4 linked regions of the Homo sapiens genome follow. The protein of the gene in region 1 purifies or fractionates together with the protein of each later gene. This does not show direct contact. Each region holds a gene or a part of one and is shown on either strand. Other genes may lie near its edges.

What was found.
Region 2: the proteins of ANO6 (region 1) and ANAPC1 purify together in Homo sapiens (affinity purification with mass spectrometry; 2 studies listed by BioGRID and IntAct, with this or other methods). This does not show direct contact.
Region 3: the proteins of ANO6 (region 1) and LEMD2 purify together in Homo sapiens (affinity purification with mass spectrometry; 2 studies listed by BioGRID and IntAct, with this or other methods). This does not show direct contact.
Region 4: the proteins of ANO6 (region 1) and LMAN2L purify together in Homo sapiens (co-immunoprecipitation; 3 studies listed by BioGRID and IntAct, with this or other methods). This does not show direct contact.

What each region holds. Positions count from the first base shown.
Region 1 is NC_000012.12:45,345,072-45,352,105, reverse strand, and holds part of ANO6 (anoctamin-6), read right to left. Parts: intron 5,085-7,034; coding exon 5,019-5,084; intron 4,079-5,018; coding exon 3,791-4,078; intron 3,589-3,790; coding exon 3,475-3,588; intron 1,448-3,474; coding exon 1,332-1,447; intron 1-1,331. UniProt on the Homo sapiens protein: Small-conductance calcium-activated nonselective cation (SCAN) channel which acts as a regulator of phospholipid scrambling in platelets and osteoblasts.
Region 2 is NC_000002.12:111,860,174-111,867,207, forward strand, and holds part of ANAPC1 (anaphase-promoting complex subunit 1), read right to left. Parts: intron 4,779-7,034; coding exon 4,633-4,778; intron 3,723-4,632; coding exon 3,502-3,722; intron 2,426-3,501; coding exon 2,216-2,425; intron 1-2,215. UniProt on the Homo sapiens protein: Component of the anaphase promoting complex/cyclosome (APC/C), a cell cycle-regulated E3 ubiquitin ligase that controls progression through mitosis and the G1 phase of the cell cycle.
Region 3 is NC_000006.12:33,779,131-33,786,130, forward strand, and holds part of LEMD2 (LEM domain-containing protein 2), read right to left. Parts: intron 5,390-7,000; coding exon of another isoform or gene 5,363-5,389; exon of another isoform or gene 5,331-5,362; intron 5,298-5,330; coding exon 5,222-5,297; intron 2,024-5,221; coding exon 1,947-2,023; intron 1,050-1,946; coding exon 970-1,049; intron 1-969. UniProt on the Homo sapiens protein: Nuclear lamina-associated inner nuclear membrane protein that is involved in nuclear structure organization, maintenance of nuclear envelope (NE) integrity and NE reformation after mitosis.
Region 4 is NC_000002.12:96,737,052-96,744,028, reverse strand, and holds the start of LMAN2L (VIP36-like protein isoform 2 precursor), read left to right. Parts: upstream 1-3,964; 5' UTR 3,965-3,988; coding exon 3,989-4,175; exon of another isoform or gene 4,176-4,189; intron 4,190-5,961; coding exon 5,962-6,080; intron 6,081-6,811; exon of another isoform or gene 6,812-6,892; intron 6,893-6,977. UniProt on the Homo sapiens protein: May be involved in the regulation of export from the endoplasmic reticulum of a subset of glycoproteins. May function as a regulator of ERGIC-53.

The sequences.
Region 1 (7,034 bases):
GAGACACCATAAAAAAACAGGTACGTGGCTCCAGACAGACATGAAGTTAACTCTCCTCTCCTCGTCACTCTCCACATCCAATCCATAAACAAGTCCTGTCGACCCGACTCCCCAAACACATCCCAAATCTGCTCCCACAGTCTTCTGCCTGGCTCAAACAGCCTCCTACCTAGTGGTCTCCCTGCTCCCTGTACCCCTTATAATCCATTCTCCACATTATCTGCAAAACGTGAATAGGATACAATGACTTAAACATTTAAAATATTACAACTGCTTCTCACTGCAATTAAAGTCTAAACTCTTTTCGGCGCTCCTGCCACCCCTCTAACTTCATGTCTTGCTCTGTTTCTCACTAGCACTGGTCTCTGATGTTTCCTCAAACTTGCCAAATGTGTGTGCATCTCAGGGCCACTGTACAAGCTGCCCCTATTCCTAGAAGGACTTCTGCCAAGTCCTCAAAGCACTGGCTCCTCTTCACTATCCGATCTCAGCTTAAAAGTCACCTCCTCAAAGATAACTCCCTCAACTCACTTCCCACTCTGCCCTCCCATCCTATTGCTCTGTTATTTTCTTCACTTCCATTAGAAATTCTGTTTATTTATTTTCATGTTTTATTGGCTTGTTTGGGTGTTCTTGGTCTATCTCCCACAAGCCAGAATCCTCAGCCCTGCCCAAACAACGTAAGCTTCTGGAGGAAAACCAACAGGGTACCTTGGGAAGAAAAACTCTTGAGCTAGTCATTGTATCTTGTGAGATACAACGAAATAGAACCTAGAGGCAGACATAAGAAAAGAGTGAAAATGTACATGTCTTACCATACAATAGAAACTACATCTAACATTTACTTCTGTGCAATATGGAATTTGGTGGGTCTGCATCCCAGTTCCTGGGCGGTGGGTAACCTCTAAACCCTTGGAACTTCCTGAGAGATAGGAGTGCCTTTTTATTCACAGTGGGACCCTAGGACTACGCCTGATAGTTTATGCCAGTGAAGTGGCTCATGGTGGACCTCTAGAGAGTTTGTGCTAATGAGATGACTCAGGGTGGAGGCTGGCCATGCCAGAAGATCAACCATGTGATTGGAGAACTGGAGCTTTGAGCCACATATTACTGGCCATCTTCCAGGGGGAGGATGATACTGGAGATGGGTAATGATTCAATTAATCATGCCCACATAATTAAGCCTCAATAAAAACCCTGGCCAACGAAGCTCAGCACTCTGGGTCAGCTCCCTTCACTGGCAAGAGTCTTGATGAGTACTGTCACATTCAGATGCTGTGGGGGTAACACCCTGAGTGCCTCCCCCTGGAGTACTCCCTACAACCCCTCACCTGATAAGATCCAAGGGCTGCTTTTTGTATATGCTTCGAGGATGAGCCCATTCTCTGTACAGAAGGTACCGTTCATTAGGGCAGCTGGGATCCTCTGACTGACGGCGGAATTTGCACTGTGACGCAGAAGGGAACATGTAAGCACCATAATCATCGTGTTTTCACAAATCTGCTTCTTAAATGTGATACAAATACTTGATAGTCAATTGTGAACAAGGGGTCCTCACCTTCTGGAAAGGGTGGAAATACCATCTAATTTTTAGTGATTCTTAACCAGGCATGGTACTACCCTCCTTGGGGGTCATTTATGAATGTGGGCAGGGATGAACGATTGGGTGTTACAATCCTGGGGAGCACTGCAGGGACTCTGTGAGGGCCCCAGAGATGCTTAAAATGCTTTAAGTGGGGCAGTCCTACACAATGAAAAATTGGGCCACCCAAGTGCCCAAATCACCACACCAGAGGAACACGTGATAACCCACCCCTCTCCTTGGACAATGGGGAAACCAAGGCCTTGGCTGGTTAGCAGCAGGGTCAATTCTAAAACCTAGGCTTCTTTGCCCCCAGTTCAGCAGTTATTCTGTGATAACATACAGAAAACAAACAATAAAGCTGGGTATCATGTTACACACTTAGCTTATTCAAGAAACAAAACTTCCTGCTTAAATCCAGTTGCCTTTTTTTCTGACTCATTTTTCTTCTTCTGGCACTAGAACCAGATTACCACCCAGCCAAATCAGGGCACAGGCCCTGACCTTCACACACCTCCCTCTCAAATACCACATGGGACCATTTGTTAGCCTGAATACAGGACCACTGCAATTAGAAGAGGCTTTAGTGGAAAAGACATGGCCAAAAGCAAATGTCAACTGTTAGAGAACCCTGGCATCCCAAATTAATATTCGTGACAGCTATTTGCAAGTGGCCTCAAAATTCATGTCCTGTTATTCGCAATTAGCTAAATTCAGTGGGGCACAAAAGTAAAACACATGGACTCTCAGGCTGGATGGCTACATTGGGTCTCTTAGGATCAGTATTTACCTCACCCAGCTCCCTGTTCTCTACTTTTCCATGTGTATCAAGCTGCTGTTTAGTGTCCTAGTTTTATTATGTTATTCAGTACATTTCAATATCGTCTCTATCCACAAATACATGTACTACACAGTAGCAATTACCAATCTCAGTCTTTACTTTCTTTGGTCTTACACAGTCAGATAAATTGATAGTGAATATAACAAAGTAATAATGCAATATAATATAGTATTTAATTTATTTCAATGACAGAGTTTAAACAGCTTTAGTTATAATGTCCCTGCATTTACAGTGGTCACATTTTAAAAATTTCATTTCACGAGAGATGTTCTCGGCTAGAGAAGTACTCTTGAATTTGAGGGGTTGCTGTGGTCTCAGAATGTAGTCCTTAAAAAAATGTCAACCATCTGGGGTACTGCCATTGTCACAACAACCCTGACAGATGCCTTTTTAAAAGCCCAGGGATATTCCAGGGGACAGTTTGAAAATCGTATTCCAAATGAGGAAGAAAAGTCTATGTTGCAGAAAATGATAAATGAGAAGGTCTAACATGTATTTTGCTGACAAAGAACTAATCTTTTCTGGTTGATAATAACATCTGTTAGTAATTATGAAAACAGCTAACACTTATAATAGTATTTATTATATGCTAGGGACTAACATTTGGATTAATTTAATGGATTAATTTAATCCTCTTAACAACTCTAGGAGGTAGGTAATAATTTATCCCCAGCTTATTGATGAGGAAATGGAGGAAGAAAGGCTAAATGACTTTCACAAGGTCATCCAGCTAGAAAGTGGCAGGGCAGGCATTTTGGTCTCAGAAATGCTAACACAGATTAACTGCTAATCTATACTGCTTTACACATTAACTGTGAGAGAGGTCCTGTCCATTCATTCATTCGCTCCTTTAAAACTGAGTATCTTTATAACTGGGATCCATCTGTGAACAAAAGACCTAGTTCTTACCCTAAATGAGCTTGTAATCTTGCAGTATGTTCCCTTCATTTTACTGAGGAAGAAACTTACAGTCAGGAAAGTTAGCCCTTTGCTATTGTCAACACCAGAGTATACAGAAGGCCTTTTAGTTCATTTTTGCCTTTTAACTTACATCATGGAGTGGGAAAGCTGCCTTGTAGATCCCAGAGTTTACAAGTCTGTTGATCCCAAACTTGCTAACATTGTTTATCACTTGATACTTGACCCGAGAGAGGATGAAGTAAACCTAAAAAGATTCCAAAATAGAGTATGCGGTTTATATAGTGTAATTAACCAATCCAATCATTGTTTACTACTGTAACACAAATCTGCTGGCATATTTCTTTTCTTTTTGTGCAGTTTTTAAAAATAAAACCAAACCAACCAAACCACAAAACAGCAGGTTCCAAATTACCCCAAGACAGCAACTAAATTTGGTTTAGACTTACAATGCGGCTTCTGGTGGCTGGATTGAAGAAAGCATCTCTATCAACTATGTAAAAATCATTCATCCGGTTCTTCTCAAATGGGGCAGTGAAAAACTCTTGCTCTGGCTTGATGATGCTTTCGTCTACACTGAGGACTTTGGTAAACCAGTTGAGTGTACCAAAGGCTGAGGACCGGTTTTTCAGATCATTGGGTTTCAGAGGCAATTTGATGTGCATTATCTCAGCATACGTACATAACACCTCCCATGGTGCGTGTACTTTTACAAATACAAGCTTGTCATCCAATACCTATATTGGAAAAATAAAAACGCAGAACAAGAAACCAACTCTTTTCACAATTTTAAAACACATAGATTTTTCTTATGTTGTTGGTAGCTTTAAAAAAACAATACAGAGACCACCACTAAAAGTGAAGATAACAATAAAAACAGATTTGCAAACCATCATAAATTTTTGTCTTAAAGACGATTTCTTGGTTTGAATCATTAAGGAAGTAATTCAAATCATCATAGTTCATAAAACTATGAAAATAATTTATAAAATGAAGAAAACCAAACTTATTTGTCTATCACTCTACCCTAATTATTGACTTAAAGTAAAAACACTAGAATATTCATTGTAGTGCTAGCATAATGAAAAATTTTTAATTTTCTAAACCTCGAATGAACTTATTGTCTATCTGTTCAATATCATATTATGTGGCTGTTAAAAATGTCAAAGAATTATATTTATTGACATAAATCCATTTGCTATATATTAAAGGGAAAAAGCAAATTATAAAACTGTGAAGTGGTAATTTTCTCCTTTTTGAAAGATAAAAAATGTGTACATATATATTTTTGAGTAAAACAGCTCAGAAGGACTGCAAAATTATTTATGGATAATTAAGATACAGATTATTTTCCTTATTCTTATGTTTTCTAATTTTTTACCATAAACTATTTTTTGTATAACAAAAAAGCTTTTAGAAGTTTCTTAAAGAAAGAAAATAATCATTCATACATGCATTCATTGTAAAATTCGTTGGCTATTAAAAAAGATCTGCTAGTTTTGATCAGAAAAAAAGAATACATCCTACACAATGCAGATTTTGATTGACTCCTCTCCCAGTCTATGACTAAGATGTGGCCAGGGCTGCATGTTTCCAATGTCACCCAAGTATTCCAAGTGGCACGAAGCTGCCCGAGAACAGTGGTCAGCCGAGGGCTGAAAAGGGACCAGTACTTACTGATCTTGTTGCTTCTAACTGCAGGCCATGACAGATAAGGTTAGATTCGTATGCTTGTCTTTTCCTCTGTCAAAAGAAGTTGGAATATATGTTAGACCTTTAGTTTACCAAAGGCAGAAAAAGGCATTTTTTAAAACAATATTAATAACAAAATCAAACTAGCGTGGACCTGAAAAAGAAATGCATCAGCATTTGGTCAAGCAAATGGAATAGAAGAAATGAAGCAGCTCTTGCTGCTGGTGACATGTAAGTGTTGGATCCCCAAGAGAATGCCGTGGAGGGTACTTCGATGCCCTGGCACCCTGGAAGGCCCTTGGCTGTCCTGGTGTGGTTTCAGTCATCTGAGGTAAATAACAGTATCCTGCTTTGACACAATCCCACGTACTTTTTGGCTCATAAAAGCATACAAATTGAGCTTTCTGAGTCCTATTCACTGATACGAGTTTTCAGAGTTGAAGATTCCAGATTTTAAAAATTTGGTTTCCATACCAGACATTCAAATGGTTCAATTACTGGATGTGTATGCGTCATCCCTGCATATCTTGACCAAATTCAATAAAACAACACAGGCAATTTTGGCAAAATTCAGATAATTTTTTTCTCTCTGCAAGACTGAGATGTTTGTGAAGCTATGTCTAAATCCATAAAAATAGTGAACTAAATTGATATCTATATTACATGGCCATTTCAAAAGATACAGAATATACTACACTTATGGATATTAAATTCTAGATGCCTAGGCTTTTGCCAAGCTGTGCCCAAAGTTGTAAGGGAAGCATGCAAAGATGGAGACTTGTTTGACCTTTTAAAAAGAATGCTTTTCATGACAAAACAGTTTATACTGCTTTGTGAAATGAAGAAAATGAGTAGACACAGAGGTTAAGAACACAAGCTCTGCTATGGTTTAAATATGTCCCCCAAAAATCATGTTAGAAACTTAATCCCCAATGCAACAGTGTTGAGAGGTGGGGCCTACTGAAGGGTAATCAGGCCACAAGGGCAGACTTAACAAATTAATGACATTATCACAGGAGGGAGTTTATTAGCATGGAATGAGCTCCTTATAAAAGTTTGGCCCCCTTTTGTTTCTAACCCCCCCGCCCCATTTTTGTTTCTCCCTACCACCTCTCTCTCCCCCACCACCGTGGGGGTGACACTGCAACAAAGTCCTCACCAGATGCCAGCCCCCTTGATCTCAGACTTCCCAGCCTACAGAACTGTGAGCCAATCAATTTCTGTTCTTTATAAATTAGTCTGTGGAATTCTGTTACAGCAGCACAAAATGGACCAGAATGAGCTCTGTAACCACACTTCCTGGGTTCAAAATCTGATTTATTATTCATCAACTCTATGACCCATGACAAGAAAATTAAACTCTCCATGCCTCATTTTTCTTCATCTGTAGAACTAAGAAAACCCACTTGTTTCCTTTTTAGGGTCTTGTGAAGATATGATTTAAACTACATAAAGCACATGAAGTAGAATTTTCATTTCCAATAGTGACAAAAGGTAACTTGGGGCAAGCCTTACACTGAAGACAGCTGAAAACGCTGGGTGGAATATTTAGCACAGCAGTTAACAAGACAGAGAGGAACTGCTAGGTCCAGGTCGAGATCATCTAGTGGGTCTGGCAGTCAGACACTTTACCCAGGGAACAATACTCATGATCTGCCCACTCTAAAGGGACAGAGTGGGGATGAGTTGCTGTGCTATGCACAGGGCCTAGAACATAAAAAAAATCCCATAAACTAGAAGTAGGTGAAGCTGCAGGAAAAAGACCAAAGGTCAAAAAGTAAAAGAATATACCTGGTATTTGGCTACATTTGAGTCCAAGTGGAATCCCTGATGTATTGTGTTGAAGTATCAGAAAAAGGATATTGCTTTGTTTTTATATCTTTAATAAATGGTTGTACAGTACTTAAAACATGCCAGACACTGTTCTAAGAGCTGTTCAGATATAGTACATTTAACTATTGGCTGCAATTTGAACATACAATAGAGTAGCAGAGGAAACCA
Region 2 (7,034 bases), on another chromosome or scaffold:
TTATAGTCCCAGCTATCTGGGAGGCTGAGGTTGGGGAATCACCTGAGCCCAGAAGGCCAAGGCTGCAGTGAGCTGTGATTGAGTCACTCACTGTACTCCAACCTGGGTGACAGAGTGAGACCCTGTTTCAAAAAAAAAGAAAAAGAAAATACTGGGGCAAGATGTCATGAAAACTAATTTTATTATAGTTCAGCAAAAACAAAACTCTCCTTGACCAAGACTCCCTCTAATTTTGTATCTTCATTCCTATTCAAAGGCAAACTCCTTAAAGAGTCTGTATGCCTATGTTCATTTCCTCAGTCCCCATTTACTTTTTCTACCCCACTTTCCCCCGCCACCCTCCCAGCTTAAAATGCTCTGGCCAAGGTCACCAAGGAACCCACTGCCACCCAGGTACCTCCTCTCTGGGTTCAACTCTCAGGGCCACACTTCACCAGTACCTGGCAATACTGGCATCTCTGTATTCTTGAAATGTTCTTTTTTGTATTCTGTATTTCCTGCTGCTTCTCCCATCTGACCTCTTTTGCTTTGTCTCTCTGTGCCAGCTTTGTCTCTTTCCATTCCCCAAATCTTAAGTTTCCAGGACTTCAGTTCCTAGCCCTCTTCTCATTCTACACCACTGGATTTTAACTATTTGGAGGCCACAAATCCCTTTGAGAATCTAAGGAATGTTAAAACCCTCTCCTTGGGAAAAGGCCTATATACTACATGTACACACAATTATTGAATACAATAATTCTTCAATTCTAATCTAATTCTCTTACCTCAATCACCACCTATAAGCTGACAATTCCACATTTATTGTTCTGCTCTTTCCCAAACTTCCGACACACTTATAAAGTGCCTTCTTACCGCTGTCATCAAACATACCAGAGGCCTAAAGGGCAATCAGTAATCTCTCAAGCCTCCTTTTTTTCTTTTTCAGACAGTCTCACTCTGTTGCCCAAGCTGGAGTGCAGTAGTGTGCTCTTGGCTCACTGCAACCTCCAACTCCCAGGTTCAAATGACTCTCTCACCTCAGCCTCCAGAGTAGCTGGGACTACAGATGCACGCCATCATGCCTGGCTAATTTTTGTATTTGTAGTAGACATGGGGTTTCACCATTTTGGGCAGGTTGGTCTTGAACTCCTGAGCTCAAGTGATCCATCTGCCTCAGCCTCCCAAAGTGAGTGATTACAGGTGTGAGCCACTGCGCCTAGGAAGCCTCCTCTTCATTAGCCTTTTCCCTCCCCTCTGCAAAAACCAGAGTGGAAGTACTTGTAATTCCCTAAATACACCACGCACTCACCAGAACTTTTGTTCTGATCCCAGCTGCCGTCTGTGGTCTTTCTCAACTTCCCTGCCTAGCGAATACCTATTCGTCTTTCAAAGCCCTACCAGCAAAAGTAGTCCCTCCTGTGTCACCATCCTTCAGCTATCTGCCTCTTTTGAGGACAGGGACAGTGACTTATTAGACTGTTAACTAGCACACACATTGGCATATAAATTAACACGTGAATTATTAAAGAGAATATAAAAGAAGAAAGGTCACCCAGAACAGAGATCTAAGCTATGTTTCCCAAAAAGTAAAGCTGGCACTCAACTAACATGAACATAAAACTTAGGAAACGTGCTAAAACCCCACATTTCCTCACGGATGGAAATTAACTGTTTCTCCCCAGAACAAAAAACACCCGAAAAATGAGAGATTATTACTATAAAGGAAGAAATATCAGATGACAAAATAATATTTTTATGATGACTTTTTTTTTTTGAGATAGTCTCACTCTGTCACCCAGGCTGGAGTGCAGTGGCACGATCTCAGCTCACTGCAAGCTCAGCCTCCTGGGTTCAAGCAATTCTGCCTCAGCCACCTGAGTAGCTGGGATTACAAGTATGCACCACCACACCCAGTTAATTTTTGTATTTTTAGTAGAGACAGGGTTTCACAATGTTGGCCAGGCTGGTCTCGAACTCCTAGGCTCAAGTGATCTACCAGCTTCAGCCTCCCAAAGTGCTGGGATTACAGGCATGAACCACCACGTCCAGCCTATGATCACTTTAATATCATTAATATCCTCTACTGAAACTGAGGTGGCCTTAATACATATCTCTATATATTTTTACATATATTAATAACTGATCACATTAAAAGGAAACTTTAAACAAAATGCCATATATTTCCCAAGACTTTCAGCAACATTTTTCTTTGAATATAATAATATATATAACAAACCTTATATTAGTAATCGTTTCTGTCCACAAATGGTCAATACACAGTTCAGGAACAATTGGCTCCGTTTCTGGTGCAAGAAAGGAGCCATTAGAATTACTATTTGGAGAATGAGAAATACTATGTCTCTTTGGAGACTGATTATGGCTTGAAATGTTGAACCTTTGCACCCCTGAAAAAGAGTGCACTCCTAACGCAGGAGAATGAGCACGACTGCAAAATAAACAGAGGAGAGAGTACATCACAGTTAGCAAGGCAGGCTTATATGACACACACTCCAATGACACTTCCAAAAATTCCACAGACAGAAGAGCATTCATGGCATAATCCAGGTCAGAAATTAAAATTTTTCAAAAAGGAGTAGCTATTTAAATGGTTCATGTCAATGTGCTTTACTATATTCTAAAGATTTAGAATTATTATTAGAAGAACTCATCTTTTACAACTAAAACTTAGATCATCTTCTTTTTCGGAAAATGAATGATTATTCAAAAAGCTCTAAACTATGTCCCTGTATAGTCAGACATATATATTTATCAACAAAACAATGTCCCTGTAGCACCAGATATACATATCTGGTCATTTAAATATATATCTATATAGAGAAATAGATACATTTACATATCAAATAACAAGTAAAAAAAAAAGAAAAACTAACATAAATTAAGGCAAAAATAAAATAGTGCCACAGTATTTTGGGAATTAATATTCATCAAACTGTTGCCCACATAGTGGTAGAAATGAGGCAACTAACCTTAGGTCAAGCATAGGCAGCTTCAAAATATGACTCAGGAAAGAATGTGACATGGTAAACTTAGAAATCTTAGTAAAAGTGGCTCAGGGCTGAGCACGGTGGCTCACGCCTGTAATCCCCGCACTTTGGGAGGCCAAGGCAGGCAGATCACAAGGTCAGGAGATCGAGACCATCCTGGCTAACACGGTGAAACCCCATCTCTACTAAAAATACAAAAAAAAAAAAAACTCAGCCAGGCATGGTGGCAGGCGCCTGTAGTCCCAGCTGGAGGCTGAGGCAGGAGAATGGCATGAACCCGGGAGGCAGAGTTTGCAGTGAGTCAAGATTGCGCCACTGCACACCAGCCTGGGTGACACAGCAAGACTCCGTCTCAAAAAAAAAAAAAAAAAAAAAGGCTCAATTGGGATAATGGCTATTTCCCCTAAAAAACATCTCCCCTAAATATATTTCCCCTAAAAACAGCTGTCAACAGAAATTCTAAATCCTTCAAAACAAAACAGAAAGCTTAGAAAGAAAAACCAGGAAACCCTTATACCTTAGAGCTGCCATGTTGGAAATAGAAGGTGAGCGAGAATGTAGACTGGGTGATGAGGTTGAGCGACTCTGGCTGTGAATGGAGGAGTAATTCTGGAAAGGTGAAGTCACAGGGGAATCTCCTTTGGAGAGGCTTCTGAGATGTGCTGTGAGGGAGCTGCTAGTGGCCACATTCTGTGGGGTTCCCCCCTGTTCAGAGAACTTTAAAACAACATTCTCTTCCTTAAGTCAAAATAAAGAGAAAGAGGAAAAAAAAAAAAACAATAATTAGAATAAAGTAGCAATTTCCTTGTAAGAATGCAAGTTGAAGTCAGTTACTAAAGACACAGTATTTCTTCTTTCCTAAGAAGCTCAATCTATTTCTCAAATGAGGCCAGGTGCCGTGGCTTACATCTATAATCCCAGCACTTTGGGAGGGTGAGGAGAGAGGATAGCTTGAGCCAAGGAATTCAAGACCAGCCTGGGCAACATAGCAAGATCCCATCTCTACAAAAAATTAAAAATTAGCTGGGAGTGGTGGTACACATTTGTAGTCCTAGCTATTCGGAAGGCTGAGGCAGGAGGATCACTTGAGCCCAGGAGTTCAAGGCTGCAGTGAACTGTAATTGTGCCATTATACTTCAGCCTGGGTGACAGAGTGAGGCCCTGTCTCTAGAGATGATGATGATGATGATGATGATGATGATGATGATGATGATGATAATAAAACTATTCACAAGTGATTTTTCCAAAAAAAAAAAAAAAAAGTGAGGGTATGAAGTATTAACTACTCTTTCATATATATATATACTTTTTTTTTTTTTTTTTTTGAGATGGAGTCTCATTCTGTGACCCAGGCTGGAGTGCAGTGGCATGATCTTGGCTCACGGCAACCTACACCTCCCAGGTTCAAGTGATTCTCCTGCCTCAGCCTCCCGAGTAGATAGGATTACAGAAGCCACCACACCTGGCTAATTTTTTATATTTTTGGTATAGATGGGGTTTCACCATGTTGGCCAGGCTGGTCTTGAACGTCCTGACCTCAAGTGATCCGCCTGCCTTGGCCTCCCAAAATGCTAGGATTACAGGTGTGAGCCAGTGCACCCAGCCTACCCTTTCCTATTAAGGAGAAGTGACTTGCCTTTCTCCTTACCTCTGATTTGACTCTCCGGAGAGTCCACACAGAATGCACATTTTGAACAGCATCATAAGTCATTACAATAGAGGGGTCAGTATTGAGGAAAACAATTTTCATTGCATGATCTACAACATATTGCACCCGTGATGAACCAAAAAGACCTTAAAAATAAAATAGAAAAATCAGGTATAGAACAATGGGCTTTACAAGACTGATATTTATGAACAGAGCTCTTAAAATTGTTAAAGATAAAGAACAACCAAGCCAAAGAGAGCACAAAATTTATTACTATCTTAAATAATTAACTCTGAATTTTTAATAAATTTACTTTAGGCATCAACTTCCTTAAAATACATTAAAGATGAGAGCATTACAAGTTTTAGCTTCACATACATGCTGTTGCTAAATGTTAAGATTTGTGCTGACTCTCACCATTACACGAATCAGCCACAGGTAAAAGGTCGATGATTTCTTCAACTGACTTATTTATAAATTGCACTCAACTATTCTGCCAAGTTTGACTTCCTTATTGGTTCTGTTTTTCTGTATGAAAGCTGTACTCTATAATTACTATTCAGACAGTGCCGAACAGTACACTGTTGTTTCTGCTTTACTAGTTACACATGCAAAATAAGGTTTTTCCCAGTGAGTTCAGCTTTTAATCTAAAGTACCATGGACTGGTCTCCATATCCTTATTTGACAGGAAATGTTTCCCACTCAGTTAAAATACTGAAAAATTTTAAAATATGATTCTATAATCATAAGAAATACTTTATAAATAAAAATCATGCCACCATCTCAAAATATCTACTATTAATACATTAGAGAATTTTTGGTTTTTTTCATACATATATACACACTTTATACATTTTTACAAAATTATAATCATACTGTGTTATTTGTATCCTACTTGACATCACAAATAAGCAACTTCTAGTTCACTAAATATTAGTCAAAAATATGATCAATAATGGCTACACTCCTCCCTCCAGTCCGTGCCTCCAAGATGACAAAGAAAAGAAGGAACAACAATCATGCCAAAAAGGGGCACAGCCACATGCAGCCTATTCGTTGCACAAACTGTGCCCGACGTGTGCCCAAGGACAAGGCCATTAAGAAATTTCATCATTCGAGGCTGGGCAGGTGGCTAACGCCTGTAATCCCAGCACTTTGGGAGGCTGAGTCAGGCGGCTCACGAGGTCAGGAGATCGAGACCATCCTGACTAACACAGTGAAACCCCGTCTCTACTAAAATAAAAAAAATTAGCGGGTCATGGTGGCGGGCCCCTGTAGTCCCAGCTACTCGGGAGGCTGAGGGAGGAGAATGATGTGAACCTGGAAGGTGGAGCTTGCAGTGAGCCCAGATCCCGCCACTGCACTCCAGCCTGGGCAACAGAGCGAGACTCTGTCTCAAAAAAAAAAAAAAAATTCATCATTCGAAATGTGGTGGAGGCCGCAGCAGTCAGGGACATTTGTGAAGCGAGTGTCTTCAATGCCTATGTGCTTCCCAAGCTGTATGTGAAGCTAAATTACTGTGTGAGATGTGCAATTCACAGAAAAGTCGTCAGGAATCCACCTTGTAAAGCCCACAAGGACCAAACACACCCACCAAAGCCCATGTAAGGAGCTGAGTCCTTCAACACTGAAGACAAGGCCAGGCGTGGTGGCTCATGTCTGTAATCCTAGCACTTTGGGAGGCCGAGGTGGGTGGATTGCCTGAGCTCAGGAGTTCGAGATCAGCCTGGGCAACAGGGTGAAACCCCATCTCTACTAAAATACAAAAAATTAGCTGGGCGTGATGGCACACCCCTAATCCCAGCTACTAGGGAGGCTGAGACAGGAGAATCGCTTGAACCTGGGAGGCAGAGGCTGCAGTGAGCCGAGATCGTGCCATTGCACTGCAGCCTGGGTAACAAAGCGAGACTCCGTCTCAAAAAAAAAAAAAATGAAAATAAAACGACTAAAAACAGACTATTCTCCAGAGAAAAAATAAAATGGAAATTGTACTTAAAAAAAAAAAAAAAAAAGGCTGCGTGCCATTTAATCCCAGGCTCTAGTATGTTTATTCGGGTTGTCTGCAATTAGTAACAACATAAAATTTGAACTTTTTCTGTAAAAGATCAAAGACTAAATAGGGCAGTTTGCTGTCCACATACTGACTCTATCACATAATCTTTGTTATTTCCTACAACCCTTTAAAAGGTAAAAACCATTCTTATGTTGGGTGCGGTGGCTCACGATGTAATCCCAGCACTTTGGGAGGCCGAGGTGGGTGGATCACCTGAGGTCAGGAGTTCAAGACCAGCCTGACCAACATGGTGAAACTACGTCTCTACTAAAAATACAAAATTAGCTGAGTGTGGTGGCACATGCCTGTAATCCCAGCTACTTGGGAGGCTGAAGCAAGATAATCGCT
Region 3 (7,000 bases), on another chromosome or scaffold:
CAACATGAAAAGGTGAGTGTCATCATTCTTCTGTGTTAGCAGCTTCAGTGAGCGCTGCTGCTGAGGATAAAATCCGTATTCTCCTCCGCCTTTTCTAACACAGGAAAATTGCTCAGCTACTCAGGGCAGCTTTTTTTTTTTTTTAAGCCAACAAATTTTAATCGTGCCATGCATCCAGTTATCCAGCTTGAGGTGGAGCTGCCCGAGGGGCTTCTGCTGGATGCAGTGCTGATGGAATTAGTAATTTGGGTGGATTAGAGAGGAAAAGAACAAAACTCTAGAGACGTTTTAATATCAAGAGCTATAACCTGAACAGAGACCCCCACAAACACCGAGAGTGGGAAGTGGGGAAGTGATGCTGCTCTGCCAGCAGGGGACAGGTCTCTCAAGGCTGCCTGGCTGTTGGCTGACACGCCCCTCCCCCTGGGCTGAGCCGCCAGATACAGCCTTTCAGCCTCATGAAAGGGTTTGCTACCTTTTCTAACAGTGCTCACCAGTGATAAAAATGAGGCAGAAACTGCCTGGTCAGAATAAAATCCAGTATTTCCTTATGCGATTTCCATAGTAAGTAAAACCAACATACAGAAAGAATAATTTCATCTACAAATAAAAACTAGCTCCCGAGGAGGGGAAGTGCAGAAAAATGCCTTCCCCAACAAACCATGTGGTGTTGTTGATGAATGAGAAAGGCACAGACTGAGTTACCTGAGACAGGATTTAGCTGGAACACCAGGCTAACATCCTAACACCTGGATTTTGTGTCTCATCTTGAAGCTGCTCCTTACACTGCATTCCAAATGCTTCTTGCTTTTGTTGCCCCACTTCCATCCTAACCCACATGATTCTGCTGGGAGACCCAGCCTCCAGCTTCAGACCTGAGACAGCTCTGTTGGAGCACGGGTGTTAGCTGACGAGCGAGGACAGTGGTTGCAGGCACCCATGCTGCGTCGCCACCCTGCCCACACTCACCAGATGCCCACGTCCTTGTTACTGCTCAGTATCCAGGTCAGTGCGGCTTCAAACTTGGCGGAGGAGCTGCTGGTCACATTCTGTGGGAGGGCGCGGGAGAAGGTTAGTTCGGCGTCTGGGCGGAGCAGCTGGAACATTATTCTGCTGCTGGATTAAGGAAGCCCTCTCCCGTGTCCTCCACAGCCCCAAAACCCTGTTCTGCTAAAAGCACAGCAAAGTGGCAGGAAGGAAATCGGGGGTTGATGAAAGCCAAGGAAGAGGCTATAACCAGAGGAGGTGATGCGGAAGCACAAGCAGGAAAACAGTGCGGGTCTGAGGCGGCCAAAAGAATATGATTCTCTCGAGGATGGAAGCATCAGGCCAGAGAGCTGGCAGCTCATCTTAGGGTAAAGCGAATAACAGCGTTGTGGCTGGGGGTGGGTGAGCCCAGTGGCCGGTGCAAGTGGTCTGGCCTCAGGCAAGTCCCTGACCCTCTCCAGGCCTCAGTTTCTTCATCTGTGAAATGCAAATGGAACCAGATGACCCCTAAGTTACTGGACAGGCAGGCGACCTGGAATACCAGCTCCATAGTTCTATAATCTACCATCCTGAGGCCACACAGGAAATCAGACGGCCCCTGGGCAGTCTGAATGGTAATCATACGGGGGAGAAGGGACAGCATGTTTCTCCTGAAAGCCGAAGGCAAGACGAGCAAAGTGAACCAAGGGAGAAGCAGGTAACAGGCACACCTACAGTGCAGCAGTCAGGAGTGAGCCGCCCCACTGCACATGGCGGCCTGGCTCTGGGGCAGTCACTACCATGGCTGCCTTAACTGAAGGTAGTCTAGCACAAAAAGCCATAAACCAAACCTTAACTTAAGGTAGCCTAGTACAAAAGCCACAAAGCAAACAAAAAACAAAAACCCCAACAGGGCTTGAAAGACCAATAGGAAAGCACCAGGCCCTCCCAGGAATGTATAAGCACTGAAGCCTACTTACGGCTATATATTCTTGGGCTTCCATAACAGGAATGCATTTGCTTTTTAGATTCTCTGGATTTCCACACTCAAAATTACCTAGGAGAAAAAAAACCACACATGCTCAAACACAAAGGAAAAATCACTCTGAAACAGACTAAAAAATGCAGCAAGAATCAAGCCATCAGCTCTAATAAGGAGCATGTTGCCCAGCGGCTCCTGGCTTCTGTGGGGCATCTTCACTCTGCAGCAAGATCAAAAGCCACTTAGCTTGGATCGATTCCAGATCATTAAAACCTGACCTGCAAAGCAGTGTGGCATTTTGCATTAAATGACTAAAAAGCTGCCCAATAGCAAGGTCTCTTTGCAATTGATCCCTAAAAGAATCAGACAGATAGCTTCGGAAGGTACCGGAATGGCACTATAAATAAACACAGCCTGAGAAAAAAGAAAGGCAGGGAGGCCATGGGCACCACGGGGATTCTGACTCATGACACAGGCAGGCGACCTGGAATGCCAGGTCTATTGTCTTGAGGGGCCCCTTGGAGGAAGAGGATGTCTGTGTGCTGGGCAGTGGGGCCTCAGCACAGCACGCCAAGGGGCAGCTCCCCCGAGTGGCTTTGGAGGCCTGCTCCCATAGGATGGAGCTGGCAGCCTCCCACTTAGTCCTGCCCAACCTCCCCGGTCCAGCCCAGGGGCCATCTCCCCTGGGAAGCCCTCAGCCCCTGGGGGCCTTTTGTTTGATGAAATGGCCCCAGATTTGGTGACCTGCCATAGCCCTTGGTCCTCGCTCCTGTGCTGTGGTTTGCCTGACTCCCCGAGAGCAGGGAGGGTGCAGGGCCACGCACGCATACACTATTTAACACGTGTGCGTGGCCTGACTGCCCTGACCCAGCACAGCCTGGGGGACTTCGGGTGGCCAGTGAGTGTGTTTCTGCATGCTGGGGAAGGGAGCAGCTGAAGGTCATATTTTAAAACTTTGAAACTGAACTGAAGCCTGTCGCCTTCCCCTAACACAGCCAGATCCTCCTACTTCAAAGTTGATCTTGACCCCAGGGGTCCCCTGAGACACAGGTGGCTTCTAGCATCCTCCTTTTCCCACTAGGACTCTTCCTGCCCTTGCCAGGCCTGCCTGGACCACGTAGATGGCCTCTCGATTCGGTTCCTCCTCTCCCTTTCCCAATCCAGTTGTTTTGTCAATAACACTTGAAAATGATTCTGCTTAACTGTGCTACTCAAGCTGCTGCCGCATTCACCTTCCTGGCACCTGGCTCTCAGCATGATACTCCCTTGCTCAAAGCCTCTCTGGCCCTCACTGCCTGCCAGATCAAGCTCTGGTGGCCTGGCATCCAAGGCCATCTATGGTAGGGCCCAACCAACACTTCCAAACTTCATTCTCTCATCTTCCCCTTCCTCCATGAAGGTGCTGCTTCCCACTCGAGATGTAATTTCCTGCCGCTTTGCCTTGTCCTTCCCCACATACATGTAACCAGTCTTACCTGGGCTTCAGGGCCTGGCACAGATGCTACCTCCTGTGACGCTCTCCTGACTGCTCCAGCTAAAAGGCATTGTGCCTCCCAGAACTTCTGGCCTCTTGGTTCTTGTCTAATCACATTTTATATCACCCAGTGGTCAGGGAGGTAGGTGGCCTGTCTCTTCCAGTAGACCCCAAGCCGGGGTTGGGCCCTGCAGGCAGGACCTGGAGCTGAGTCATCTCACTGCAAGGGCCTGCACAGTGCCCAGCCCACAGCGGATCCCTAACAGGAGAGGCATGGAAGGGGTTGAGGACTACTAGGGAGCCTCTGTGAGGCACACTCCTGTCTCAATGAGATATGTACCTTCAAGGCGGCCCCCCAGGCTTGTCGGAGGGCAACAGGTGCCAGGGCCCTTGAGGGCATAAGGCAAGACCACATATGGAGGGTAGGATGGAGGAGAAATATCTACTAGGACCCAATTTCGAGCAGTGCTTCTCAACTTTAGGGTGCACTCAAATCCCCTGGGGATCTTAAGATACAGACTCTGATTCACTGGGTTTGGCATGAGACCTGAGATTCTGAATTTCTAGTGAGCTCCCACGTGATGCAGATGCTATGGGTCCTTGGACCACATTTGAGACACAAAGGTTTGGAACACTCTCTTAGGTCAGAATTGACATCCCAAGCACCTGGGCCGTACAGAGGAATTCCTATGATGCTGTGAGCAGGAGCCCCAGTACCTGTTTCTCCTCCAAGTGCTCATGGATGCCTCCCCTACCATCTCATCTCTCACTTTCAAGAGGGAGGAGGCAGAAGAGCTGATGCTCATGAGATTGACCCTGAGGACTGAGGGCCCAGGAGAAGTCCACCCGACCCTAATTTCCCAGTGAAACCTTAGACAAGGGTTGACCTCACAATCCTAAGACCTGTCCTCTGACCCCACAGGTAAGAGGCGCCTCTTGAATATCCCTTAAGATAGAACTGCTCTGTCTGGTTCTTGTGTCCAGCGCATTTAACACAAGGCGCACATGCTGATATTCACCTATGTCAACTGCAAGTGATTTTGAGAGCCTCCTGGATGCCAGGCGTCGGGCAGGACATAATAATGCAGGTGGTATCTCTGGCCTCAAGGAATAACTTCACCAAATAAAACAGTAGGGGATGCATCTTCTGGATGCATTTTCAGGGGCATTTCACAGAGGTGCTGAGAATGCCCTCCTTTAGAGGACAGCACTTGACTCTCATTTGTAGAGAACAGACAGACCCAAGAGCCCTTGGTCAGACAGGGAGATGAAGACCCTGAGAGGATCAGGGACTTTGTCCGAGGTCCCACAGCCACATGGTGATCAGGACCAGATGTGACACCAGGGCCCACTACACAGACTATCTGCTACTTGCACAGGCAAGAGGCCTCTCCCGGGCCCAGCCAACCACCTGGTTCAGAGGGTCCCTCTAGGGTGAAGGACACAGATCCTGACAACACCTGGGGCTTGGCCCCTTCCCATGCCAACAGAGACCCCCAAAGCATTAGGTAGTGGGCATCCCCAAGAAGGAAGAACAGCTGCAGGAAGGCCTGTTCACATGCCAGGACCTCCCTTAAAGAGGAGCAAGAATCAAATATGTTTTGTTCAAACACAAGGCTTATAAAAGATGTGCCTGAGTGAGGAGGCGAGAAGGTGAGACTCGGCTTCTGAATATGCCTTCTGAGAGACAACCAGGGAGTGTCTCGCTGGCCAGCAGCAGTGTAACTAAGCCTGATGAACCGGGTCAGCCGCCCATAGCTCTCACAAGAGGAATCTCAGGACTTACGTGACTTACTCACCAGCTTGGATGGCCAGGAAATTGTAGAGTTCATGCAGCAGCTCCAGCAAGGCTGCCTTCTGCTTGGCCTGACAGAACTGGAAAGGCACGGGACAAGTGGTCAGCAAGGAGGGGTGGGTGGGAGGGGTCCGTCTGTCCATCTTTACTTCTCCAGCCACACTGTCAAATACTAAACAGCAAGGAATATCTCATACTTTTACAAAATAGAAAAAAATTCTGCCAAGTGCTGGGCCTAGGGAGAGAGTTGATAAATATTGGGTTAACTGCCTGAGAAAGACCCTGGAGAAGCAGAGGCAAAGCTGAAAGCAGACACTGTAACCAAGGGGCTGCATCCCAGAGGCTCCTGGCTCCTGCCTTTCCCTTGGAATGACGGCCATTAAGAGGGCTGAGCAGAGGCGACGTGGTCGGGGGATGATGCAGTCGCTCAGCTTCCTCAGAGGAAGAGCAACTGCTGTCGGAGTTTGCAGAGATGGGAGAGCTGGAAGAGCTAGGAGAGCTTGCAGACAGGGCAGAATGTCAGCAGCTGCCATCTCGTCTCCCGTTAGGTGGAATCTCAGAGCCCTCATCTGAGTAAGGATTGTGGTAGGATTCAGTGCGAACTCACACAAACCACTCAGCAGAGGCTGCTACCACCTAAAGGAAACAGGAGGACAGACGGTACCAGACAACGAGACGGCCTGATTAAGACAACACACCCACTCCCAGCCTGTCCCCACGTTTTCAGCAGCACAAAGGCAGAAAGAAAAACACAAAGTGTCACCGTCTTCAACGACCGAAAAGGGAAAGAACATGAATCTGAAATTCAAATGCCCGTCTGTGATCTCGGTAAGCCTGGAGCCATGCAAAGAATAAGACTTTCAGCAAGAGCCTCACCAAAGCCAAGAAACACGTCCCCACCTGCTTGTTCCTGTGTCCACCCTCCAGAAAGGCCAAGGGTGCCCCATGAAATCTTAGCTCCACAAAGCCTGCATTGAGATGGCCCAGCCCCTGCTTTCTGATGCTCTGATGAAGGTCTGAATGGTTACAAATAGGGATATCTGCGTCTGAAGCCCTCGCTGGCAGGTGCTGAATGCCGTCTGCCCACGGAGCGCATCTGTAGCTAGGACCTGGAGGGTACCTGTCTGGGCTCACTCAAGTGGAGCCTGAGTGTGTCCAGATCAGAGAAGGCCAGGGAACAAATGTGCCATTCACTTGTGGGTCTGATTCATTTAGAGATGTGAAGGACCAAGAAATAGAAACCATGGAACTTTTTTCTAATTAAAAGACAAAACTAACAGCACTGAGAAGTCTTACAGAAAGTTATTTTTTCCTGTTTTTGTTTTAAGTCTTCAAATTCCAGTTTCCCCTCTGGCTGCCTGTGTTTCTGGGCCACTTCCTCTCATCATCAACTACAGTTTTTATGATAGAAGGCAGATTAAACTTACTATGAATCTGTTTTTACAAAACAATTGGGAAGCAAAGATATTTGGTGGATGAATCCAATAAATGGATGTAATAAAACACCCCCAACTATGACACACCCGAAGCCAAAGAGAAATAAAAGCCGTTATCTGCACCAGGATGCCCCCTCATTTACATGAGTAAGACAGTCAATGCAGGGCTGGCCAGAGGACCATGCGTCATTTTCTTTCCCAGCCCCTGGGCTACTAGAGATGTTAACTAAGGACTTGGGAGGCCAGGCATTGCACACTTAATTAGACTACTAAGTCATGCCCTCTGGCAGCACAAGACTCCTCCTGGTACAATTTAAGACCTGAAAATTTACTGCCCCATATCTTCT
Region 4 (6,977 bases), on another chromosome or scaffold:
TTCACTATATTGGCCAGGCTGGTCTCGAACTCCTGACCTCATGATCCACCCGCCTCAGCCTCCCAAAGTACTGGGATTACAGGTATGAGCCACCGGGCCTGGCTCTTCCTTTTCTTTGATACATTCCTCATTAATAAGCATTCTTCCTATTGCAACAGTCTGAACAAAATGATTTGATTTATAGTCCAGTGCATCTCACCTTTCACACCCTTCTCCTTTATTCCCCTTTTCCTCATCACACAGAATTTTACAATGAGATTTCTGCTTGTGTCAATCTATCAGAAATTCAGCTGACAGGGTGCATGACACTGCGAATGAATTTAATGCCTTTGAACTGAACACACATGGTCCTGACTTAATGATGGTTTGACTTAGGATTTTTAGACTTTAGGATGGGTTTAGTTTTTCTGTAGGTAACCCCATTGTAAGTTGAGGACCATCTGTACTTAAAAATTATACGCTGTATTTTATGTATTTTTTTTCTTTTTTTTTTTTGAGACAGAGTTTCACTCTTGTTGCCTAGGCTGGAGTGCAGTGGCGCGATCTTGGCTCACCGCAACCTCCACTTCCCAGGTTCAAGCGATTCTCCTGCCTCAGCCTCCCAACTAGCTGGGATTACAGGCATGCGCCACCACACCCGGCTAATTTTGTATTTTTAGTAGAGACGGGGTTTCTTCATGTTGGTCAGGCTGGTCTCGAACTCCCGACCTCAGATGAGCCACCCACCTCGGCCTCCCAAAGTGCTGGGATTACAGGTGTGAGCCACCGCGCCCGGCCTTTATGTGCATTTTACTACAATTAAAAATTCATCTTGCAGAGAAATGCAATGGAAATAATTTATTCAAAACAATTAGAACCCCTACTATGTGCTGGGTGATAGGTTGGGGTTGGGGAAATGGGTGGGGCCTGAGTTAGGAAATGAGTAAGACCTGCTTCCTGTGGTCCTGGAGCTCCCAGCCTTGCTGCGGAGACAAACCCATAATCTGTTAATTGAGCTCCATAATTCCAGGTGACACACATTACAGTACACATGCGTAGCGCCTGATTTCAGTCAGGATGCAAAGGGCTTTGAATGCTACACTAAGGACTTTGGATTTTGGTAATTGGGAGTTATGAATGGTTTTAAAGCCAGTGTATGACACGAACAGATTCATTGCAATTCCTAAAGTCTTAGCACCAGACATTTGACATTGTAGGGTGTCAAAGACTGATGGCAGTGACAGGCTGGGCACCATGGCTCACACCTGTAATCTCAGCACTTTGAGAGATGAGGTGGGAGGATCGCTTAAGGCCAGAAGTTCAAAACCAGCCTGGGCAACATAGAGACCCCCATCTTTAGAAAAAATTTTAAAAATTAGCTGAGGCTCACCCAGCAGTTTGAGACTGTAGTGAGCTATGATCACAGTACTGCACCCCAGCCTGATGGATTGAGACCCCATTTCTTCTTTTTTTTGTTTTTTTGAGACGGATCTGCTGCTCAGGCTGGAGTATGGTGGTGGGATCTTCTTGACTCACTGCAACCTCTACCTCCTGGGTTCAAGTGATTCTCCTGCCTCAGCCTTCCAAGTATCTGGGATTACAGGCACCTGCCACCACGCCCATTTAATTTTTGTATATATATGTATATATATATTTTTCGAGACGAAGTCTCACTGTGTTGCCCAGGCTGGAGTGCTGTGGTGCGGTCTCGGCTCACTGCAACCTCCGCCTTCTGGGTTCAAGTGATTCTCCTGCCTCAGCCTCCTGAGTAGCTGGGACTACAGGCGTGTGCCACCACGGCTGGCTAATTTTTTGTATTTTTAGTAGAGATGGGGTTTCACCATGTTGGCCAGGATGGTCTTGAACTCCTGACCTCAGGTGATCCGCCTGCCTCCCAAAGTGCTGGGATTACAGGCCTGAGCCACCGTGCCCAGCCAAGACCCCATCTCTTTAAAAAAAATAGCTGTGACAGCTTTAATTTTAAAAAGTTGATCCCCTGTAAAGTAGGCTCATAATTATGTTTATCTTATTAAATATATTCATGCTCAGGAAAGCAAGAGAGTGTTAACTTTGGTTAAGTCTATTGGGAAGACATAAACACAGATCTGTCAATTGCTCTATATGAGATGTGCATGGAACACTTTGAGAGCTCAGACAGGAGAATCTACCCTGCCTGAGAGGTTTGAGAAGGACCTCCAGAAGGAAGTGGACTGCAGAAAAAAAAAAGAGGGAAGGGAAGCTGGAGCATAAAGATGGAGGAAAAGAGTCATGGGCAATAAGGCCAGGGCCAGATGGCAGGGGGCTTTGTGTGCCAAATTGAGGGGCTTGAATCTCCTCCCCACAGGTGATGGTGAGCCATCAAAGGCCCGGTTAATAAGAATGATGATGATGAAATAGCGCTTATGGCTTGGTGCGGTGGCTTACACCTCTAATCCCAGCACTTTGGGAGGCTGAGGAGAGAGGATCACTGAAGTCTAGAAGTATGAGACAAATCTGGGCAACTTAGTGAGACCTCCCCCACAACCCCATAGCTACAAAAAATAAAAATTAGCAAGGTGAGGTGGCACACACCTGTAGTCCCAGCTACTTGAGAGGCTGAAGTGGGAAGATCCCTTGAGTCCAGGAGGTTGAGGCTGTGGTCATGCCACTGCACTCCAGCCTGGGTGACAGAGAGAGACCCTGTCTCAAAAACAAAAACAAAAACAAAAACAAAAAAAAAAAGAAAAGAAAAAAGAAAGAAATAGTGCTTACTACACGCAAGGCACTGTTCTAAGAGGTTTACCAATATTGACTCATTTAACCCTGACACTTACCATGGTTAGATAGTTTGGATCACTTTAGTGGCTACGTGGAGACCAGTCTGGACACATGTTGTGGTGCCGGATAAAGACGAAGGGATGTGCCTGTAGTCCCAGTAACTCAGGAGGCTAAGGTGGCAGGATCACTTCAGCCAGGGAGGGAGAGGCTGGAGCTGAGATTGTGCCACTGCACTCCAGCCTGGGCAACAGAGCAAGACCTTGTCTCTCTTTTTTTTTTTTTTTTTGAGATGGAGTTTTGCTCTATGTGGCCCAGGCTGGAGTGCAATGGCTTGGTCTCGGCTCACTGCAACCTCTGCCTCCCAGGTTCAAGCGATTCTCCTGCCTCAGCCTCCCAGTAGCTGGGATTACAGGCACGTGCCACCACGCCTGGCTAATTTTTTTTTTTATTTTTAATAGAGACGGGGTTTCTCCACCTTGGTCAGGCTGGTCTCGAACTCCCAACCTCAGGTGATCCGCCTGCCTCGGCCTCCCAAAGTGCTGGGATTACAGGCGTGAGCCACCGCGCCTGGCCAAGACCTCGTCTCAAACCAAAAAGAAAAAAAAGAGGAAGGGAGGAAAGGAGGTGATGGCTTTTAGAATTAATTAATTTGTGTGCTTTCAGTTCTTTTATATCTGTAGGTTGCTTGATGGCCCAGACTATCACGGCAAAGGAGTCATTTGCATTTGAAGAGAATGTGTCTTCCGCAGTTGTTAGGTGGAGTTTCTATAAATATCATCAGGTCAAGTTAGTTGGTAGTGCTGTTCAAGTCTTTTATAAATTGATAGTTTTCCAGCTATTTTACGGATTTGTCTATTTCTCCTTTCACTGCTATATCTTCCAAATTGATTCAGAGAGCTGCAGTCAGGAGCGTACTATTGCAGAGAGGATAGAATGTTTGGGACCAGAAGAAACGTTTTATCTCTTTAAATTTACTCTCGTACGCAGAAAACAAAATACAAATAAACTACGTATCCCAGCAAGCCTAGTGGAACTCAGGGCAAATGCAAATAAGGGGGGGGGCTGGGCATTCGGCTACGCCCCTTTTCTGGGTTGGCAAGGCAACTGATACAGAAGCCAGCCAATCGGTGATATAGTCACCTGCAGGGGCGGGGGCTTGACGAAAGCCAATAGGACGCAGGGCAGATGGCTCTTCGGGCCAATGGGTTGGGCGACGGGGCGGGCTTTTGATGAAGGGTCGTTGGTGGGAAAGATGGCGGCGACTCTGGGACCCCTTGGGTCGTGGCAGCAGTGGCGGCGATGTTTGTCGGCTCGGGATGGGTCCAGGATGTTACTCCTTCTTCTTTTGTTGGGGTCTGGGCAGGGGCCACAGCAAGTCGGGGCGGGTCAAACGTTCGAGTACTTGAAACGGGAGCACTCGCTGTCGAAGCCCTACCAGGGTGAGGCGCCCAGGGTGAGGTGGTCGTGCAGTGGGGCGGGCTTCGGGACTTGATTTCAGGGGTAGAGGCGGGGGCGGCGAAGGGCTTCGTGGCCCGGAGGAAACTGCTGGCGGTGGTGGGGCCCACGGAGACTCCCTCCGCGTTTGGGAGCCACAGGTCTGAAAGGCAGGAGTTAGGTGTGCCTGCCAAGCTCTGGAAGTTTCCAGTAGGTAAAGGCAGGGCTGTCGGGTGCCACTAGTACTAGGCCTGGAGTTAGACAGGAGGAGTTTGGGAAGGGGAGAGAATTGAGAATGGTGAGGAGTGATTGAGGGCTACTAGCAATGAGCCAGTCTCCAGATGGACCTGTGGATGTGCTAGAAATAAAGCAGGAGGAAGAACTGGGGTAGAACTTGAACGAAATGAGAAGATGATAAATTTATGTTGCTGGGTAGAACCACCTTCTCTTCTCCAGCCTAGGGGCCCTGTTGGTGAAAGAGGTTAGGGTTCACAGAACTCTAAGCACAGCTTATCAGCCAGAAAATTAATGCAGTTAGCCACAAAACGATGACAAACCAGTGCAGATGGCTTAACTAACACAAGTCTTTCCCCACTAAGGCGTAGGTAGTGGGACAGAAAACAATTCAAAGTGCAAGAGTATACTCTACTACTAAGGGTAATCATTTATTCACTTACATGCCTGGAGTGCCTCTGTGCTGTCTCTTTGCTAATGCTTATGGGTTTGCAGACACAAAGTTTTCATTCTTAAAGAAGTTTATAGGTGAGGGTACAGGGAGTAGCTTCACACTTTAAGGATTGTTTAAAGAAAGAATGTGACGGCTGGGGCGGTGGCTCACGCCTGTAATCTCCGCACTTTGGGAGGCCGAGGTGGGCGGATCACGAGGTCAGGAGATTGAGACCATCCTAGCTAACACGGTGAAACCCCATCTCTGCTGAAAATACAAAAAAATTAGCCAGGTGTGGTGGCGGGCGCCTGTAGTCCCAGCTACTCAGGAGGCTGAGGCAGGAGAATGGCGTGAACCCGGGAGGCAGAGCTTACAGTGAGCCGAGGTCATGCCACTGCACTTCAGCCTGGGCAACAGAGCGAGACTCCATCTCAAAGAAAAAAAAAAAAGGAAGAATGTGACTAAGCCCCGGAGGCCTGAGGGTCAAACTCTTTTTATTTATATTTATATATTTTTAGAGACAAGGTCTTGTTCCGTTGCCTAGGCTGGAGTGCAGTGGCACAATCATGGCTCATGCAGTTTCAATCTCCTGGGCTCAAGCGATGCTCCCAACTCAGCCTCCTGAGTAGCTAGGACTATGGACAAGGACTACCACACCTGGCTAATTTTTTTTTTGGTAAAGACAGGGTCTTTCTATGTTGCCCAGGCTGGTCTCAAATTGCTGACCTCAAGATGCCCTCCCTCCACATCATCTCAAAGTGTGGGGATTACATGGGTGAGCCACTGCACCTGGCCTGTCAAACTCTTTTTGATATAACTCAGGAAAATTTTTTTCTTTTACGATGCTGAAGTTTACTCACATATAAAACGGGAAGAATGGATGTGAGCTATGGTTACTGTAACATGCATAAAGTGAGAGTTCTGATGTGCTTTGGGGTCCTTACCTGATAAAGGCCTTGTGAAAGCTGTAGAGATGGTAAGATTCATGACTGAGAGAAGATAGGAGATTGAGTGACATTAAAGGGGGAAAAAGATGATGGCTCAGCTTTCAGAGGCTCTGTGGTGGCTGCTTTCTGAATGGATTGGTGTTGAAAAGTATGAACTGATCTACTTCCTTCCTGTAGGTGTGGGCACAGGCAGTTCCTCACTGTGGAATCTGATGGGCAATGCCATGGTGATGACCCAGTATATCCGCCTTACCCCAGATATGCAAAGTAAACAGGGTGCCTTGTGGAACCGGGTGGTAAGAATCTTTCTCCCTCCTGTGTTGGTGACCCAGAAAGGCCTAAAAAGTTCAGCAGTGGCATACTGATTTAATTTTACTGTCTATCCCCCTGGTATTCTATCTTCTGTGGATATCAAGGATCTTTATTTTTGAGATTATTCTGACCTTGATAATAAATAAATCAGGTATTTAGGAAAATGCTCTCTATTTAATTATAGCAAATAATTCATTTTTTTTTCCTGAAATGTCGTTAATTCCTGATTGGCCCAATAGTACTACTTCTTAGGGTTTAATAATAACTTAACTCCTGCTTAACCACTTTGTAAGAAGATTATAAGAAGACCAGAGTGCAGTGGCACAATCATAGCTCACTGCAGCCTCAAACTCCTGGGCTTAAGGGCTCCTCCTGCCTCAGCCTCCTGAGTAGCTGAGACTACAGGCATGTGCCACTGCACCTGGCTAATTTTTAAAACGTTTTTTGTAGAGATGGGGTCTTGCTATGTTGCCCAGGCTGGTCTCAAACTCTTGGTCTCAAACAATCCTCCTGCCTTGGCCTCCCAAAGGTCAGGGATTATAGGTGTGAGCCACCGGTCCTGGTTGAGAGTACTCTTAAATTGATCCCAAACCTTATCCCAGCATCCCCATCTTGTTATTTCAATTTGAAGAGTCTGATATAAAATTTTATTTTCATGTGAAAGCCACTCTGAGCTGTTGGTCATTTTATTTGTCCTTCTCTGGACCTTTTCTAGCTGCATTGTCTTCCTTGAGGTATGGCGACAAGAAGTGAATGCAGTATTCCTGGTGTGGCTGCACTGTGATTTTGTACAAGTGTAAGATGATGCTTTCTTTTCTGTTTCCAGGGCTTTCTAAATCTTTTACGACCAGTTTACTTTTGGGCATGACTCTGGCATCCTT